2 linked regions of the Homo sapiens genome follow. The protein of the gene in region 1 interacts with the protein of each later gene in a pairwise test. Each region holds a gene or a part of one and is shown on either strand. Other genes may lie near its edges.

Region 1 (7,611 bases):
CCAAGATTCCCTCAAGGTAGCCAAAAGATTTCTCACCAGAGTACCTGAGTCTAACATTCTGTGTTGCCATACTACACCTGGCTGGGTGTCAGTTGCTATTTATCAGTATGCTCACACATCTTTTTTAGAGTTAAGAGGAAAGTGAAATATTTCTTGTATCAAGGCCCTATCAAAATTAGAAAGCCAGAAGTGAATCAGGAAGAGTATTACTCTGATATGCAAAGTATATCGTTGTTGGAAAAACAAGAATTATGATGCTATTATGAAACAAATCCCTCCAACTTCACTCATTACATTACCTACCTGGCCCCCAGACACATCTGAGTTTGCAATGACTCCTGTAATAAAATGGTGGTAGACATACAATCATATACATGAGACAGCATTTATAAAACCAGTGTAATAAGTAACAGTTATTACACTAATTGAGGGACTCATATTAGTCTATCATATTGTATCCTTTTGCTGATAGAATGATCTTATCAAATTCCCATTGATTAATAGATTCCCTCAAAGTGCTACCAATAGCCACTGAAAAAACTTAATGAACTCGCAAAGTAGCTCCTCAGTGGCTGAAAAGCATAGCTGTAATTCCCTGAGTGCCTAACTTCTTGGCAGCCATATACACTTGTGGAAGATGGATCCAAGGAAAATGGGTGAAGGATCTTTTGTGTCAGAAGAGAGGAAAATATGGAAATGAAAGCTTTTGGCAGGTCTAACTTGCCACATTACTGCTCAGGAAAAAAGGCAATCAATCGCTACATATTTCTTGTTGTTGAGGATCATGATAAAATAAATATAATTTAAGCTGTAGGAGCATAATAGATTAAAATCAACCCCTTGGATTGACTCAGGAAGCAAATGAGTTGCCAGTGTGGACTAGTACATTGATATAATCTACTATTTCCTTAAAGCATTTTGGTCATCTACTTTCTGCTCTAGTTAGCATTTATGTTAAGCATATGAACAGCAGTTGACTATGAAGGCTCAGAGGTTGAACTGCATCTTTGGAGAAATAGAGGAAATAACATGTGATTGAGGTTTGGGAAATGAAAATTGTCATAATACATTAAGGAAGAAAATAATCTGAAGGCCAAGTACTCACTGAATCAGAAAAAAAGTTGGAGAGTCCTAATATTGGAGCCTGTGAACTGGAAACTAGATATGAATTCATAACCTACGAGGGTATAAATGATGGCAAGAAGTCAGTAAACTGAGTCAGTGTTATTTTTGAGACTGAAGGAAGGTTCTTATGGAACAGGGAGTCTGAATAGTTCAAGTTCTGGGCATTAAATTGATGATGCAAATAGAAGACAGTTTGATGAAGAGTGACAATGATTAAAATCTGAGATGGATTGAAATACGAAGAAAATTTAAAAGAGATAAAGCCTTGTATTGCTGGCATGATAGAATGAGATTTTAAAGGTATCTACTTTAAATATGAGCAGGTTACTCACCAGAATCCAACCGTTTGCATACAGACAAAATAAATTGGCATAAGCATCATGGAGCTATTTAGAATGGGCATTTTATTAATGTCTTGCCTATCTTTTATTGCCCTGCTCTGAAATGTAATCTGAGGGAACCATTAGACAATATTCGCTGAGGAATGACTATGATATTTTGGCTCTTTTTCTAACTCCAACTACTACGAATTTCACAATGCCATGAAAACACTTCAGCAAGAATTTTGGCAAAATATTTACAATTTCTTCAATAATATTGCTTGTGGAATATGAGGAATGGACAGCAACCACTTAGTGACTGCAGAGAGACAAGCAGGAATGAGGAAAAACAATTACTTACTACGCTATTTGTGATGAAAAAATCTGAGTTTAGCTTATTATAAAAAGCCTGTTGGGAGCCAAGCATCGCACATGTCAGAGGAACATGCTGCTTCCCTTCACCATGTCTGAGATAGGGTACCTACAGTTGGGCTGTTTGTGGGATGAAGAAGTGCTTCTATAACATCAGCAGGCGTGTGACCAGTGGCTTGTGGGAGACAAGCACTTATGGGAATAAAAGGGAACCTGGCACAGGCCTTGGGCCTCTGGCATCATTAGTTACAGGTCTGCCAAGATGCTTTGGGAAACATTTTAATTTAAATGCCAAGTCTATTTCAACGAAGCTCCCTGGTATGACCTGTTGGGAGTCCAGAGTGAGATGGATAGGTGCTCACTTTGGAGGGCACTGGTGAATCAGCTGGTGCTTCTATAAAAAGCATACTGGGGGTTAAACATCACTAAGTCCCTACTCAGCCCAGGAAAATCACAGTGAGAGCCATGGGATCTATGGCTTTCATAGCATTTTACTAGTGACTCGTAAATGCAGGAAAGATTAGATACTAACACACAAAAGGCAGAGACACCTCTGGGTGTTTATTCAAAATATCAAACTTAGAGAACTTGAAGAATAAAGACCCCAGCATTCTTTTTTCCTCCCCCGAAGCATACTCACAGGCTACTATGACTATAAATTTAATAAAGCAGAGTTAAGAGCCTGATTTGAATTATTTCAATATTTTTCCTCCAAAACTATCACAAGACAGAAAAAATAAACATTTTGAAACACAACGAGAAAAAAGAAAGAAAAGAGCTGAGACTGAATAAAACACTAAGCATTGTCCTTCGATGTAAAAAACTATTTCTGTTAGTGTGTAGGCCCAGGTTGGAAAGAGATGTACAAAAACACGAATTCAGAGGATCGGAAGAATTAAAACGCCCCCAAGAATAACATGAAAGTATTTGATGTTGCTTCAGGGGCAAGGGCGAGTATGTATATGTACGTAAATCCATTTCCTCAGAGGCTCCTTGGCAGTCTGTTACAACACCACGCTAATGAAAGCCAGGTCTTTAAGTTCACCCCGCCTCTGGACTATTAGTTTCTCCTTTGCGCCCTGCGGGGACTGCATTCCTGGAAATGAAAGCACACGAGTTGGGGAAGGGCTGGGGTGCCAGAGAGGGTAGGAAGCTGGAGCCCACGGAGCCTGGGATGGAGAGGTGGGTGGGCCCAGGCCTGGGGCGTGGGGTGGCGGTGGAAGGTCTGGGGTCTCACCCTTCGGAGTTTTGAGTCTTGTCTGGCTCCAGGGAGGGAGATCCAGGGGAGATATTTACGAACGGAAGCCACACGATCAGCTTGGACTTTTAGGCCAGTCACTCCGCCTTAAGTGGGTGCGTGAGAACCAGAAGAGGGACTGGCTGTAGCGCTGCAAGTGAGATCCTGTCCCAAAAGATGAGCCTGACTTAGGCTGGGCCCCGCAGGCCGGCAGGGCCAGCCGGCATCCCTGGTAGGGGAATCGGGAAGGTCTCAATGATAAATCTGTGTGTGGAGACTCAGAGGGCACGAAATAGGCTCTGCTGATGTCCTCTGCCCCTCATAGCCTGCCAGCCACCCCAGCCTTCACCCCTGCCTCAGCATCCTTCCAACTAGTTGAATCAATCAGGAGCCCAAGGGAAAGGAATTGGTCCCAGTGTATGAAATGAGTCTGACCTACTGGGGAAGTCAGAGAGGAGTGTCCCGAACTGGGTGGGAAGGAAACGAGTTCCGTGCGCGGGGCTGGGGCAGGAGTGAGGCGCAGCGGCCGAGATCCTGAGCCCCGGGACCCTTGTTCCGGGCCCCGAGGCCTACTTGGTAGTTGCCCCTCGGGGTTCCGGGTGGGTGACTGACAGTTGCAGCAGCTCTGGGGAGGCGAAGGATAGGCAATGACTTGGGGCTCCCGTCCACTCGGCTTTGAGGTCCCCGCGGCCCGATGACCCGGCCTCGGTGACAGCAGCCGCGACGGCGGCAATCTCGACAGGGAGCTAGGCGGCTCATGGTGGGTCAGGGGGCGACCGAGGAGGGACCACGCGGCCTGTAGGGGGCAGCGCCGAGCTCGGGAGGAGACAGCAGCCGGCGGGTGGGGTGGGTCTGGGCTGCCCCCTCCGGGAGCTGCCCCGGGGCCGCACGGCGATTGTCATACCCGGCCGCCCCTGCCCGCCGTGGGCTTCCTCTCGGCGCCGCGGGCCTTAACGGGGCTCTGAGGGGACGTGACAGAGCTCGGCACGCGGCAGCCTCTGGGGAGTTAGGGTCCGGAGAGACCCACGCGTCGCCCCCCGCCCGCCCGGGGCCGGGAGATCCTCGGGAGCCGCCTCCGCGTGTCCAGAGAGTGTCGGGGCGGCCGCCACTTCCCCTCGCCCTTCGCCGGAGGTGGGCGCCTTTTCCTGCGTGGCGGGTGCTCCGACCCCAGTTGCTCTGAGCCCCGGGGAAGCGCGCCCCGAGCCCCTGACGTGGGCGCCCCGTTACCTCGGGGTGGGTGCCTGGGGCCCCTGAGGTGGGCGCGGGTTGCCCCGGGGTGGGCGCCCGGCCCGCGCGGGTTATTTTTGGCGCCCGCAGAGGCGCGTGTGTTGGGGCGTGTTTTCCTTCCCCAGGTGCCGAGAGCCGGGGCTCCGCCGGCGCCGGAGCTGACTCGTCTCTCTCTTCTTTCCCCTGCAGGAATCTTCCGATAATTCTGCCGCCGCGACTTTAACCGTGCGCAAGGCGAGAGCTCGAAACAAACATCACATCTAAATTAAAAAAAAAAAAAAGCGGAAGAAGCGGCCGAGGCGGCGGCGGGAGGAGAGGAGGAGGGGCCGCGCGCGGCGGCCCGAGGCGGCGGCGGGGACGCGGGGACGCGAGGACGCGGCTTTGTGCAGGCGGGTCGCGGGGCGCCCATGGCGGAGTGCGGCCGGGGGGGCGCCGCCGGCGGGGCCCTGCCCACCTCCCCGGGCCCGGCCCTCGGCGCCAAGGGCGCCCTGAAAGCCGGAGTGGGGGAAGGCGGTGGCGGGGGAGGTCGCCTCGGCCACGGGCGGGCGCGCTATGACAGCGGCGGGGTTTCCAACGGAGACTGCAGCCTCGGCGTGTCCGGGGACGAAGCCCGGGCTAGCCCTACCAGGGGACCCCGCGGCGTTGCGCTCGCCCCGACCCCCAGCGCGGTCGTCTGTACCCTCCCCCGGGAGAGCAAGCCGGGCGGCCTGCCCCGCCGGAGCAGCATCATCAAGGTAGGTGGGAGAAGGGCGCTCATCGCCCACCCTCAGCCGTCCTTGGATTCTATTTTCTCCCTGGGGGAGTGGTGGTGGAAGGAGGAAGCCCACTGCTAACAGGAACCACTGGAGCATGGGTGCTTGGGGTGGTTGAGCGGGGATTGGATGCAAATGGCATGTGGAAAGAATGGAGAGGTGATCCCTAATGTGCAGGGGGAGCTGTGCTCAGACATCCTCAGTTGAACTTGGGGCTGTCACCTCTTCCAGGATTGGTCTGGCATTAGGGCCTTGTACCTGCCGGGGTAGGGCATACTCTTATGTGTAGCCTAGTCTGGTTAACAGACTCCCTGTAAGATTTCTATTGTATCTTAAACACAGATAGGGATTATGTGAAATGTGAGAACATTTTCTTAAAAATCCCAGGCGGCGAACAGAGGGTGAACAGAGATTATTTAATAGGGTTCTTCTGATCCGTATACAGTTAGTTGGCTCTTACAAATGTTTACACTTCGAGGGTGCAAAATCTCCTAATATCCGGTCACTCAGTCACAAAGAAAAATAGAGTAGATTTCTGAACATAAATGCAGATTTCCGCTTTCTTAGGCTCAAAAGCTCAGAGATTACAGTTCCACACGATTTAATCTTTTTCCTTGCTGCAGTAGGCAGGCCTCGAGTACTGTGGAAGTTCTTTTGGGCAGTTTGCTTGGTTTTGCTTGCACAGTGTTAGCGGAAGAAAGCCAGCGATTGTTTTGAGCATTTTAAACTCAAGAAGTAATATTAGGAACTCCCGAGTTTGTGTTAGTTTCATTCTAATGTTACATTTTGGTTCGCAATGTAAAAATATTTTTCATGACATGAAGTGCAAAAAAAAATAGTTGATGAGCTAAGAAGAGCAGAGCCTTAGGCAAGACCAGCTCATTCGGCTCGCTCAAGTTTGGAGCAAATGAAAACATTGCTTTCTGAAAATCAAGGAGTTATCAGGACAGGGAGCAGCAAAGCAAATTGACAGGCTGCACCCACCCTTCCTGTGGCTGATAACTGGTGGGAGGGCAGAACGTGCCACAGTAAAGAGAGTTGGCAGTGGTGGTATCTGAAATTTTATTGGACCTACAGAAATCTTCCAAGTACTGTGAAAATGTCTGATGGTGTTATCAACTTATGCAGTAATCTAGTGAAATATACCATCTTGCTACTCTATGTAAGAGGCAATTGTGAAACTGCATTTCCCTTTGTCATCTGTTTGCGCAGTTTATGTCTGGGCAAGGACACAATTTGAAGGGTTTGGAGATGAAGTGTATTAACTACCTGCAGCACACACGTAGAGATAAACTAAGGAAAGTAAAGTGTCTTTTTGCTGCATACATAGCTTTTAGTGACTTACGTTTTCTTTTACTCTGTAGCTTATGTTTCCATGGAAGTTGCTTTCAACTGTGCATGATAATCAATCCTATTGACAGAGTTAGGTGACATTTCTGTTTTTATTTGTCATAAAATATTTGTGGTGATTTTGCATTGTGGTGTTAATAAAATTTGAGGTGAAAATTCCAAAGAAGATACCAGCCTACCTAATTTTAACCCCTTTCTTTTAATTGTTTTGAATACTTGTTTTTGCATTAAAAAATCAAACTTTATTAGTGTCCATAGTGAGATTCATAGTGTAACTTACTGAATTACAAAAACATTTGTTTTAATTTTACATTACTGGGCGATAAGCAAGAAGGATGATTTGTTAGTATTTCTGATATATGGAATTGGGAACTTGTCAATAGATACCATTTCTTAATTGAAGGCTCTAGAAGCACATGGGGGAAATGATTAATGTTCAAAAATCACTGATTTTAGAAATGATATTGATACTTATGTTGAATTCTGAAACTTTTAAGGATATTTTGTCATTTTTCTTCTTTGTAAAGAAAGCATTTGGCTTCTTGTTCACCAGTGTAACCCTAGATATAAAGTGCCAGGAATGTAGTAGCAGCTCAATAAATTGCTTATTGAATGAATGGAGAAAGTACATGTTTTCTCTGAGTTCTGTTAATTTATAAAACAATTGGTTTTGGATTTACCAGTCCCATATTTTGTTCATTGTATTGTACCTCCAAAGAAGGCTTGACATACTCCTTTTTCTTGCCTCTGTTTTCACTTTGCATTTTCTTAAAACTTTCGAAAATTATGGAAGTAGTGTTGAAAGTTGATCAATACTGGGTTATAGGAAAGAGAGGATGCTATATTTAAATAGGTAACTACTTGGTATATTTCCCTTTGAATTGGTGCCTTGAAGCATCAAGATTTTTGGAATGTATTGTGGTATTTTCTAAAGATAACTTCCAGCATCAGGACAATATCCTAATAGAAAACAAAGTCTTTAACATCAAATTTCATAAAGCAACAAATACTGCACAGATAGTTTTGTCATGTGAATGGCAGAAATTATGTTTCACTTTTGTTTAAAAAAAAAAAGAATAAAAAGCTAAAGCAGAAGCCCATGTGAAAAAGCAATAGTGACATCTTTCCTTGGTTTCCTTATTTTTTTTAATATAAGGGATGAATGCAGTCAGGTGGTCTCTGAGTAGAGGCAGGAGTAGATTAGTAAGCAAGGTGATAATTGGGGACT
Region 2 (7,027 bases), on another chromosome or scaffold:
TGCGAGAGGCCACGTGGTACGAGCTGCGCATGAGGGCTTGCAACAGTGCGGGCTGCGGCAATGAAACAGCCCAGTTCGCCACCCTGGACTACGATGGCAGTGAGTCGCAAGGGTGGAAGGGATGGTACAGAGGCTGGAGCAGGGTGGTGCGAAGGAAGTGGGCAGAGTGGCAGATACATAAAGAGACAGACTAATAGAAAAACAGGCAGGAATGCAGGTGGGGGAAATGCTGGCCTGCAGGTGAAGGGGCTGACAAAGGGGACATCAGGTTTGTTGCAGCCAGGTAAGCGGGCAGATGCACCAATGGCCACTACAGATGGACAGACACATAGGTCAGTAATACCAAAGATGGAGAGTCTTTGAAGCTGCAGTCCTCAATCACTGTGCATTGTTTCAGGGAGGTGACAAGGGAGGTAGAGGTGTGGTTGAGGTCCTGACCTCTAAGAACTTTCTGCTGATATGGAATATTAGCCAGGAGGGGACAGCCTATGCTGCAGTCGCAAATACCAAAACCTGGTGGCTTAACCCTGTACTGATTTGTTTCTTGCTCTCTTGGAGTCCTGCGAGGGTTGAGTGGCCACCATCTTTTTGAACATGGAGACTCCAGGATCCACAGAAAAGGCATACTACCAGTTCCTAACTGCATCTGCCACATGGGGATACATACACACGTGCACACATACACACACATACACACACACACACATCCATTGAAGGGACATGGAAGGCTGAATTCATAGAAGCCCATTGTCACAAGTCTACCTATGTGTTAAGGAAACAGAATAAAAGCAGTATTAAAAGGGGATGGACTCAAGCAAGGAAGGCTTCATGAAGGAGGTGACTCTTAAGCAAAGCTCTGAAACAGGCAAGGGTCAGGGCTTGGCAGAGGGTTATGTCAGCAGGAGAACTTGCCATGCTTCCCCACAGGAGCCCCAGGTTAACAGATATGGCCCCCAGGAGGGGTGAGCAGGGAGAGAATGTAGGGTTTGTAGTGGTTTTTGTCTCCATCTGGGGAAGAGAACCCAGGGTCCACTGCCCAGACTTCTCCCTACCATGCTTCACCCTTTGTTCTCCCCACCCCAGCTGGATATCAGAATTTAAGCCCATCAATCCACTCTCTGGGAATGAGCACTGAACTTCAACAGGCGAGAGACTAACTCCAGGAGACTTTAGGCTAATTCTACAACAGTACCAGGACTTTGTTAATAAAATGCAATATTAAAACTACACAACTGTTCATGGCTGTCCTGATAGGACCAGAATTTGGGGAGCAGAGGGGAAGTCCAGGGTTCTGTGCCAGGAGGTGGAGGTCAGAGCCCAAGGGCAGCAAGAGAGGTCAGAGGACTGCCCCACCCATGAGATGTTCTGCACAGCACCTGGCTCATAAGGGACATCTAATTCTATTCTTTGCCCTCATTCAGGCACCATTCCACCCATCAAGTCTGCTCAAGGTGAAGGGGATGATGTGAAGAAGCTGTTCACCATCGGCTGCCCTGTCATCCTGGCCACACTGGGGGTGGCACTGCTCTTCATCGTACGCAAGAAGAGGAAGGAGAAACGGCTGAAGCGACTCCGAGGTGGGGGAGCTTCCTATGGGCCTTCCAGGAGGGGGTGTTGGCTCTCAGCCACATTGTCCCCCCCCTTCCCTGGCTCACAGCACCATCTGGATGATACAGAGTGCCTGTGTCCCCTTGAAGGAGGAGCAGCCACTCAGACTTTCTGAAACCTCCTTAGTTCAGAAGGTTTCGTTCACCACTTCCTCCTCTATGCCCCCAAGACTTTGTGCCTGCCCCAGTCAGGGCTAATATTTAGAGGTACACACTGGTAAAGCCATGTTGATTGTTAAATATTTAAACATTTCCATGTTGGTTGGTAAACAGATGTTGCTCCTTTCCACACTGGATGCTTCATCCCCTCTCACGGGATCCCTGCAACTTTCCTAGGACCCATTCACTAAAGAATAGACCTGCAGGTAGTCTCTAGGACAATGCTCAGTTCTAACTGGGCAGTTTCTGCACCATGTCAGGTGTTAAATATTTTGAATATTATCCCCTTTTTCCATTACCTGATGCCACAGTCTACTGTGAATGGGTCTGATTTACCTCAGTTTTCCCACAGCCTAACACAGTGTCTGGCACCTACTAGTTGCTTCATAAATATACTTTCACTTATTTGGAAAACTTTTATTGGGTCTGCTTCATCATAGATACTGCAAGACTATAGAGATCAATAAAGAACGGCCAAGCCATACTCTTACAGAGTTTATCATCTAATGTGAGGAGCCAGGAGACAATAGTAGCACAGAAGAGGGAATGACTAATGCTCCCTATTGTGTTCAGGAATTGGGTAAATGGATGAATAGATGGTTCAATGGATGGTTGATGATTGGATGGATGAATGGATGGAAGGATGGATGGATGGATGGATGATTGGGTGGATAATTGAATGACTAGATGGGTGGTGAGTAGTTACATGGTTGGATGGTTGAATGGATCACTGAATAAATGGTTGAATGGAAGGATGTATAGATAGAAGGATGGCTGGATGGCTGAATAGATGGCTGGGTGTAAGGATGGTTGAATAAAAGGCTGAATGAATAGATGGGTGGATGGATGGATAAATTGATGGATTGTTGAATGGCCAGATAATGATTATATGAATAGTTGAACAGATAGGTAGATGATTGAACAAATGCTTGGATGGATGGATGACTATTCTGATAGATCGATGGATGACAAGATGGATGGATGGCTGGATGGAAAAACTATTGGAATTGTGGAATGATTGGGTGAATGGTTAAAGGAGTGGTTGGATGTAAGGTTTAACATATAAATATAAGAATGATTGAATGGATGTTGAATTCATGAGTGAATGGTTGAATGGATTACTGGTTGAATCAATGGGTGGATGGATAGACAGATGGATGGTTGAATAGGTGGATGATGAATTAATGGTTGGTTGGATGGATGAATGGATAATTGGATGGTAGGTGGTTAGATGGATGGATGGCTAGATCAGTGAATGGATGGATGGATGGATCAATGGATGGGTGAATGGATAGCCAGACAATTGGATGGTTAGATGCATGCATACAGCTATTTGGGATTCATTCTGACAGCTCATTCTCAGGTATCAGGGGTCTAATAAATTAACTAGGCCCTTTAATTCTCCTCTCTTCCAAATTCCTAACCTGAGAGTCCTGATCTTATTCAAGGCTCCTCTGAGACAAAGCAGGGGCCACAAAATCCATCCATGGACTTTTTGGGGACAGAGGCCCCAGAGGAGGAAGTGAAGCCTCTTGGTTGATATGAGAGTTTAATCATCTGGGGCTTCCCATTGACCACCTCTACTACATCCTCCACTCTCTCCTCTCCACAAGATATAACTGAAGATAAATCTTCCACTGATATCCATTTCCAGCCTGTTATGGTGTTGTGTTTAAGCAGAGTCAATTCATGAAGCAGATGAGGCACTTGCTATGCCCCCAGTGCTTTGGGAAGGTTCTCTCAATTAGATAAAATTTGAAGAAAGGAAAACAGACTTGAGCCAAATCCTGAATTTGGAGCAGTGAAACCGCGTCATGTTTTGGGCTGTTTTGTAGGTCCTTACATTTCTCCTTCTGCTTCTTAGGAGACCAGCCCTGGCCCCATTTTAAGGAATTCTCCACCTTGTTTCCCATGCCTCTCCCATTGTCATCCTGTTCAAACTTCATTCTCACCCAGCCCTCCTCTCCCTCTACTGTTTTGCAGATGCAAAGAGTTTGGCAGAAATGTTGATAAGGTGGGTATCACCAAGCTGCTTCCTTTCTCCTCCCTTCTCCCCTCTGTCCTGAGGAGGACCCAGGAGCCTCGCTCTGAACTCCCAGAATAGGAGGCAGGCTTCTAAAATCCCACTGTCCTGCAGAGCCCCCTTCCCCAACCCCTTATGGCTGCTGAGCCACCACCTCCAGTCTTTCTCCCCACAGCAAGAACAATAGAAGCTTTGACACCCCTGTGAAAGGGCCACCCCAGGGCCCACGGCTACACATTGACATCCCCAGGGTCCAGCTGCTCATCGAGGACAAAGAAGGCATCAAGCAACTGGGTGAGTGACAGGTGCCACAAGTTCCCTGTCCTGCTGGGTGTGCTTCCCCAGGCTACAACCCATGGAAGTCAAACACCAACCCTCATGGCAGTGCCCAGGGTTCTGGCAGTAGCCCCATCAACCACTCAACAACCTTAGAACTCACTGTGGCTTCTCTCAAGGGCTAATTTTCCTCCTCTGTCCAACGGAGGGAATTGCTGGCCTTTCTGTGACTCAACATTGGATAAAGTCTGGGTTGGTGGGTCATGCCTGTTATCCCAGCACTTCGGGAGGCCAAGGAGGGAGGATCACTTGAGGCCAGAAGTTCGAGACAAGCCTGGGCAACATAGTGAGATCCCATTTCTACCACAAAAAAAAAAAAAAATAGCCAGGCATGACACATCCTGTAGTCTCAACTACTCAGAAGGTTGAGGTAGGAGGATAGCTTGAGCCCAGGAGATTGAGGCGGCTGCAGTGAGCAGTGATCACAATTAAGCCTGGGCAACAGAGTGAGACCCTGTCTCAAAAAAACAAACAAACAAATCCACAAACAAAAAACACATTGGATAAAGACAAAGAGAAATTCAGTCACATCCAAAAGAGCTTTAAAAAACAATTGTAAAGGACTCCCAGTAATTGTCCTTCTTTCCCCAGGAGATGACAAGGCCACCATCCCTGTGACAGATGCTGAGTTCAGCCAAGCTGTCAACCCACAGAGCTTCTGTACTGGCGTCTCCTTGCACCACCCAACCCTCATCCAGAGCACAGGACCCCTCATCGACATGTCTGACATCCGGCCAGGAACCAGTACGCATTATCCCCAGGGAGACAGCCCTTTTCCCAACCGGGGTGGCTTGGGCATAGCATGACACAGAGGTGGTGTTTTTTTTTAAAGGGAGGAGGGAGCTTAATGGAATAGAATGCAAAAATGGAAAGCACTGGAATGAGCGTCTGGAGACCTCAACTGCAGATTTACTAACTGTGACCTTGGGCGTATCACTAACTTTATCTCTCTGGGCCTGTTTCCTTACCTAGAAATTTTGAGAGTATTGGGTATTCGTGTTCTCCAAGGGTCTTTCTATCTCTAGCACCGTGTATCTGGACATAGGATAGAACACATCAAGGACTGTAGGGAATGAATGGACAGTCAGGAGGCAGCAGGAAAGGACATCACATTCTCCCCCAGGTGGAAGGAAAAGATGGGGTGGGCGGGGAGAATGCCCTCCACTGCCCCCTCCCCAACCTTGACTCGATTGCTCTTCTCCTCTGGGGACAGCGATGTGGTTAGGAAAGGCAGCATTCCCAAGGGCGCTTCTGTGGCTGCATCTGCCTCTTCCCTTGCTCCCCCCTGCCCTTTCTGGTAAGTGCCAGCTGCCCAAGCCTGGGTGCCTTTGGTTGGAGGATGCAATTTCTTGCTTCTGTCTGTGCAGATCCAGTGTCCAGGAAGAATGTGAAGTCAGCCCACAGCACCCGGAACCGGTACTCAAGCCAGTGGACCCTGACCAAGTGCCAGGCCTCCACACCTGCCCGCACCCTCACCTCCGACTGGCGCACCGTGGGCTCCCAGCATGGTGTCACGGTCACTGAGAGTGACAGCTACAGTGCCAGCCTGTCCCAGGACACAGGTGTGCCTAAGGCCCTGCTGGCATCCTGAACACCTCCCCCCAGTTCCCCATCATTCACCTTCACCTTCTATTCTTCCCAGCTTCTACCCACCAGCTCATGGGGCCCAAGGCACAAGTCAGTTTCATGTCTAGCTGGTCACTGACCCACTGTGCAGCTGGGACAAAAACACTTGACCTCACTGAGCTCTACTTAGTCAGGGAGTTAATTTTGCTTTCCCAAAAACTGTCAGAGAAAATGGTACACATGATGTTCATTGGAGAAAGGGCTGAATGTTCCAGGGGATGGTTGCTTATTTTCAAGAATGAAAGGTGTTCTGCCCTTCATGAGCCAAAGATCCTACTTCTGCCACCACTGCCACCTTCACGGGATCTTCTCAGCCTGGTGCCCTCCATGGCCAGACTTACAGATGGCTGCTGGGGTTACGGGCAGGGGAAGTGCTCAGTCAGTCTCACTTATACCCTCCTCCCCGTAACCCACCCCTTTCCTCTTAACTCCCCAGACAAAGGAAGGAACAGCATGGTGTCCACTGAGAGTGCCTCTTCCACCTACGAGGAGCTGGCCCGGGCCTATGAGCATGCCAAGCTGGAGGAGCAGCTGCAGCACGCCAAGTTTGAGATCACCGAGTGCTTCATCTCTGACAGTTCCTCTGACCAGATGACCACAGGCACCAACGAGAACGCCGACAGCATGACATCCATGAGCACACCCTCAGAGCCTGGCATCTGCCGCTTTACCGCCTCACCACCCAAGCCCCAGGATGCGGACCGGGGCAAAAACGTGGCTGTGCCCATCCCTCACCGGGCCAACAAGAGTGAGTGCTCAGACCACCTCCCAGGCAGTGCCCCCCCGCCCCCTGGCCCCAGCCCCATGAGCCCTGGCTAGATCTAGTTCTGCCAGCACCAGGATCATGCCAGCCCAGCTTGGCTCCTTGGCAGTGCAGGGTGGTACCAACAGCAAGGACTTAGGAGCAGGCAGATCAGGGCCCACATCCTGGCTTAACCTCTTCCTATGTCTGTGGCCTTGGGCAAGTCATTTAACCTCTGTGGCCTTAAGTTTCTCATTTGTAAAATGCCAACGATAGTATCTACTTTGCATTGTCATAATGGGCATTAGAAATGATATACATCCCCAGCGTGTTGTAAGGCCTCATTCATTCGGTAGTGAGCATCCCCTTAATCTGAAGCTGTGCCAGGATGGAAACAGATCCCTTCAGGGTCAGCTGCCCAAGGGCCTCTGGTCTCAATGCTGTTTGAATTTAATCCAGACCCAAACAAACAATCCTGGCAGCTCCACCCACCATGGTCATACCTCTCAGTAGGCAGTGACCTGGCCTGGCTGG

Evidence for each region. The genes of interacting proteins can lie anywhere in the genome.
Region 2: the proteins of PLCL2 (region 1) and DSCAML1 interact in a two-hybrid assay, tested with the Homo sapiens proteins (one study listed by BioGRID and IntAct).

What each region holds. Positions count from the first base shown.
Region 1 is NC_000003.12:16,880,352-16,887,962, forward strand, and holds the start of PLCL2 (inactive phospholipase C-like protein 2), read left to right. Parts: upstream 1-4,603; 5' UTR 4,604-4,688; coding exon 4,689-5,015; intron 5,016-7,611. UniProt on the Homo sapiens protein: May play an role in the regulation of Ins(1,4,5)P3 around the endoplasmic reticulum.
Region 2 is NC_000011.10:117,430,194-117,437,220, reverse strand, and holds part of DSCAML1 (cell adhesion molecule DSCAML1 isoform 1 precursor), read left to right. Parts: coding exon 1-99; intron 100-1,421; coding exon 1,422-1,577; intron 1,578-3,749; coding exon 3,750-3,780; intron 3,781-3,964; coding exon 3,965-4,083; intron 4,084-4,716; coding exon 4,717-4,869; intron 4,870-5,492; coding exon 5,493-5,687; intron 5,688-6,187; coding exon 6,188-6,499; intron 6,500-7,027. UniProt on the Homo sapiens protein: Cell adhesion molecule that plays a role in neuronal self-avoidance. Promotes repulsion between specific neuronal processes of either the same cell or the same subtype of cells.